Homo sapiens: one gene and its partner. The protein of the gene in region 2 purifies or fractionates together with the protein of the main gene of each other region. This does not show direct contact. Each region holds a gene or a part of one and is shown on either strand. Other genes may lie near its edges.

What was found.
Region 1: the proteins of OR3A1 (region 2) and ALDH1A2 purify together in Homo sapiens (affinity purification with mass spectrometry; one large-scale study listed by BioGRID and IntAct). This does not show direct contact.

The regions. Positions count from the first base shown.
Region 1 is NC_000015.10:57,952,821-57,955,543, forward strand, and holds the end of ALDH1A2 (retinal dehydrogenase 2), read right to left. Parts: intron 2,450-2,723; coding exon 2,377-2,449; 3' UTR 609-2,376; downstream 1-608. UniProt on the Homo sapiens protein: Catalyzes the NAD-dependent oxidation of aldehyde substrates, such as all-trans-retinal and all-trans-13,14-dihydroretinal, to their corresponding carboxylic acids, all-trans-retinoate and all-trans-13,14-dihydroretinoate, respectively.
Region 2 is NC_000017.11:3,290,273-3,293,025, forward strand, and holds the end of OR3A1 (olfactory receptor 3A1), read right to left. Parts: intron 2,317-2,753; 5' UTR 2,311-2,316; coding exon 1,363-2,310; 3' UTR 745-1,362; downstream 1-744. UniProt on the Homo sapiens protein: Odorant receptor.

The DNA of each region.
Region 1 (2,723 bases), on a different chromosome or scaffold from region 2:
TCCAAGGGCTGGAAGGAAAGGTGGGGAGCTGTGCGGTTCTAAAGGGTGGGAACCACTCCTCAAAAGCGCAACTCTGAGAACACACTGAGAGAAAACAAGCTCAATCTTGGTAGTAGTACGGTCACCATTTACAGATTTCTTTTTACAGCTGCAAAAATATTCCATCAGGTTATCAGCCTCTGACTTCATTTCACTTTGGTAAGTAAGTAAAAATAAAGCTACTGTGAAATGCCATCAGCAATGTGAGCTCACGGCGGGTAGTCCACGTTTGTGAAAACAGACCCTATAGACTGCTCTGCATTTTAGTTTTCATGGAGGCTATTCTAAAGGAAACTTGTTATTTCATATATTTCATATATGGTTATACTTACATGCCAGCTAAACTACACATGCACACAGATTTTAAATAGCATCAGAAAATAAGGTTTTTGTTTACCTTAATACCATTTACCAGTTGCCTTAATGAATTCTGTAAAAATACCCTTGCAGGCTTCTGCTCAGTTACCCAAGAGGGCAACACAGCTGAAAAACCCAGCAGCTGAGGAAGGACCCAAAGAGACTCAGTATGACCCAAAGACTTACAGACACAGCCAAACAATCCCAAGGAGTACACAATATAAATGCTTTATTGCTAGCACAGAGGTTTCTTTTTAAGTAAATTAAAAGAAATAAATCTTCATTTTCACATTTTTTGTTGCAGTCCAAAGGTAACTAGTTGGTTAGTGGCTATGTCCACTTGGACACATGCTACAGGAGGGCAGCATTCACATGGAAGCACTCAGAAATACGGCATCTGTCAGGGCTCACGGCACTGGGCTGCTGAATGCACTGTCGTTTGTAAATAACAGCAAGTGGAGACTTTAAAACATCATGGATAGATAAGAGTTATAAATAGAAAACTGGTACGGTTAAGAAGCAGAAGATCGTTAAATACAGAAGGCTATATATATGTTGCCCATATTCCACATACTCTGGGTTATGTTTGGTACTTTTAAATAAATGATCTGCATTTAGGTTAGAGACTGGATTGGATTTGACAGCTGGAAAGATGGAAGAAGGGATGGAAGAAGGAAAGGAAGCTAACACTTCCCACATCAAACTGGTGGAGTCACTGGAAAGCAGAAGAGGAGTATGTGGATGGGAAGAAAGGGAGGCGGGCCTGCTTTACTCCCTGCAAGCTGTAGGCCATGGCCTGCCCAGTGAGGGGCAAGAATGGGGTGTGACAGAGGAGCTCAGTGGAGCACGGCAGTCCTGGCACAATGGAACTTGGCAAATGGAAAAGGAAACCCCTAGGCTTGGCCAGATTTTCCAAGGTCACTGCCAATAGATACAGGGCACATTATGATAGATGTACAGTGTGACAGACCAAAATCACACCTGCAGCAGTTATTGGTGTAGAGGTTCAGAAGGTACAGATTCCAACTACAGAAATAATTCATTTAATAATAATTGTTGCCCAATATTAGAAACTGAATGATGTCTGCAAGGCATCCAGCATTATCAAATTCTTGGGCCTACTCGGATTGTTTTTTGGTTGGTTCTAAGAAAAACTTTGGAAAAGATCTTATCTAGCTATGAAAAACAACCCACTCCTTGCCTTATTCCAGAATAACTGAGAAGGAATCTAATACACACACACCCCAAAACTGCAGCAAGCTCAGAAGCGGTGAACTGCACATGATGACTTCCAGTCTCTATTGTCCCAATCTTTTTTCATTCATGTTATTTATGGGTAAAAGAAAACCAGATTGGGTCAGGAATATCCCAGGTTCTTACTACATCTGTAGTGTACCAGCTCCTGGCATTTTCATTCTGGTCTGACTCTAGCTAAAACCATTTCATGTTTTGCTTTGAAGAAATGGATAACATGAAATGATAATTTGGCTTTACAACCTTGAAAAATTGTTCCCGGCCCAAACATCTGCCCCAGAATGAGCTCAGCTGACATCTCCTTGGAAGAGAGGGAGGGGTGGGTGAGCGAGGAGGGCCTGGAAGGAGGAAAATGAAGACAGGAGAAAGGTCACCTTTCCTTGAGAGGAAAGTTCTTTGTGACAAAGACATGAAATAATACAGCTCCCTTATTTCATCCTGTGCTCCAGAAGGAGATACTGGATGTGTCTGCTAGCTCCTCCTCCTCCCTTTATCCCACTTTCCCCAATATTTGGTATGATTAAGGTGGCCCCTTACAGAGTGCCAAGAAACTGTACCCAGCTGGTTTGCTTTAGTTGTGCAGTGACCTGCCTGGCCTACATGTTATCTTTTCAATCTTTAAGTAAGGACCGTGGCTCAACTTTGTATTCCTGAGAGCTGGGCCCTACAGAGAAAGCAGAGAGGGACAGACGTGCAGGCTGGGCTTCATCCTCCTTCTTGGCCTTCTTAGGAGTTCTTCTGGGGGATCTTTACTGTCACCGTCTTAACTTCTGAGTACTCCCGCAAGCCAAATTCTCCCCTGAAACACAGAAATGGGCCGGGTCAGATACCAGAAGTCCAGGGAGCTGCATGTGAGTGCAGCGGGAGTCCTGGGGAGGTGCAGTTTATCACCTGCGAACAGCAAGTCCTGGGATGTTCATGTAAAAATTCCTCACGTATGCGCAGCCCAGCCTTCCTCTGAGGGTCAGAGAAACTGTCATCTCATGAGTAGTTTTTAAAGAAGTTTTTTTAAAACTTTAAAGTTTTTTAAAGTAGTTTTAAAGTTAAAAGGTGACTTGTTTTCACAATACTGC
Region 2 (2,753 bases):
TTTCTTCCTCTGATCTTTCAATACTCTCAAGGCATCTTATCCAATTCCTCCATTCTTTCTCATTTCCCATTCTGTGTACCACGTTTGGTCCTAACCCCCTCCACTTGCAATTCTCTCCCAGTTCTCCCTATTCCTCATCTTTCCACTTCATTTTCCTACCAACTCTCCTCCTCCAGTCTTGTTTTGCTTCCCTCTTTTGTGTCTTTTCTCTTTATCTCTATCTTACTGCATCTATTCAATCCCTCACCCCCATAAAATATTATAGAGAAGCCAAGTCACAGGTGCCAGTCAAAGGAAAGTTTTAGGAAAATGCATTTGGAAACAGCAGTGGCACAGCAGAGTTGCCAGGAATGGGCAATGAGTCCTAAATGGGAAGCTGAAAAGATACAGCGAAATCATGGCTGGTTTAACTTCAAGCAAGTTGAGCTAATGCTCTGGGTCAGAGCCACACTCCCCTACTGAGAAGGGACATTCAGGGTGACTCCTCACCATATGACTTGCATTTATAGTTATGGATTATCTCAGCAAGGAGGTTTGGAGACTAAGAGTGAGAGTTTTGGAGAAATTTTCATATTGAGTAGTCTTGGATTTTCTGAAATATGTAAATAATGCTTAGATTATAAATTCTTATCTTTTCAAAAAATTTGAAACACATGGGAGAAAAAGATGAGGAAAATTCATTTTTGTAACATAAGATATATAATACATATTAATGGAGTTTTAGCATTTGGAAACAAGTCTGTGAGCTGCACACAGGTATCAGGTGCTCCAGAATTACTAGAGAATACATAATCATACAGCTTCCCCTCTGTCCCCTGTCTATGCTATGGGGTCCTTGTTTAATGGGAATAGAAAGAGCTACTTTTTTGTTTTTGTTTCTTTTTGTTTTATTTTTGCTTTTAGAGTTCTGATGGGAGAAATAAAACAATCCTAATCTCTAGACCTATGTTTTATAAACAGACCAAGCACACCTGAACTTGAGGGAAAAATATGACTTCTGGCGGGGAGTTTTCTGGGGTACTTCTGGCAACTAAGGCTGTAACCAACCAAAGAGTCATTCCTTCTGGAACATGAACCTGTCAGCACTCACAGCTTCCTAGGTTTCACCTCTAGCCAGAAAGGAGAGAACACGGTGCCTGAAGCTGAATTTGTCTAAGGGGCTGGCTTGGCAGATCCTATACACTCATTGCTTATAATTGGACAGGGCTGCTTTCAGAAATGAAAACTATTATTCCCTACAAAAAGTCCTTCTTATGCCCATGAAACAGAAACAGGTGTGAACCATTTTTTTCCTAGTTTCTGGCTCTAGAAGACTTTTCCTTTAGTACAAGACACAGGGAGAAAGGGTCAATTGAGACCTCCTCAAGCCAGTGACCGCCTCCCTGTGAGCATCCTCCAGATGGCACTCTGCACATCAGGGTTTCTGAAGCTGTAGATGATTGGGTTCAGCATGGGATTGATGACAGTGTTGAAAATTCCAACAGCTTTATCCTTGTCTGAAAGCTTGGTTGAACCCAGTCGCATATAGTTAAAGATACCTGAACCATAGAATATGGCAACCACAGTGAGGTGGGAGCCACATGTGGAGAAGGCTTTCTTCCTGCCCTCTACAGAGCGAATTCGCAGGACTGCAGCTGCCACGTGGATATAGGAGATGACAATGAGAGCCATGGGGGTACCTGCCATTATAAAACCCACAGCAAAAAGCAGCAGCTCATTGAGTTGGGTGCTGGAGCAGGAGAGCTGGAAGAGCTGTGGGAGGTCACAGTAGAAGTGATTGATCACATTGGGGCCACAGAAGTTGAGCGTGGACATGGCCACAGTGTGGGTCAGTGCGTTGGTGAAAGCACAAGCCCAGGACGCAGCCACCAACATCCTCTGGACTGTCTGACTCATGCGGGTGCTGTAGGTGAGGGGCCGGCAGATGGCCAGGAATCGGTCATAGGCCATGGCGGTCAGCAGGAAGCAGTCCACTCCAACGAACAGATGGAAGAAGAAGAGCTGGGTAAGGCAGGCCCCACAGGGAACTGCACGCTTGCGGGACAGGAGACGACTCAACATTGATGGAACAGTGACGCTGATGCACCCAACATCCAGCACTGATAGGTTCCCCAGGAAGAAGTACATGGGGGTGTGGAGTTTGGGCTCCACCAAGACAGCTGCCAGGATGCTGAGGTTGCCCCTGACCGTGACCAGGTAGGCAAAGAGGAAGAGCACAAAGACAACTGGCTGCAGCCCTGGCGCCTCCAGCAAGCCCAGCAGGATGAACTCAGCAATGACTGTTCCATTGGCCCCAGATTCTGGCTGCATGAGTTCCTGCAAAGAAACATCCAGGGAGGAAAAGAATCACTCCTCCCAATAATTTATTTACTCAAGAAAAAGAAACAGACCCCCTTCTACTTGCCCGGCCCTCTGCCACGTTCCCTCTGTACAAGTAAGGAATTTTGCGCTCCTTAGGCCACACTACACTTGTTTACTCTGTCGCTACATTTACCTGAATAACTTTATTTGCAGGCGTAAGCACAGGTAACATTACCACTCTGGACCTCCCTCCTCCAACCCGCCCCCCAGCTGCAAGAACCTATTTGTAAAGATTATGAAAGACAAACCCTTGGGAAAAATAAGCAAAAAGTGTACTTCTGGTTTGAACATGGCCGAGTAAATCCAAAATGTTCTCTTCTCAGAACTTATCTCTTTCCAAAACAAGCAGAAAAATAAACATACAGATTCTATCTTCAAAGAAACTAGTAAGT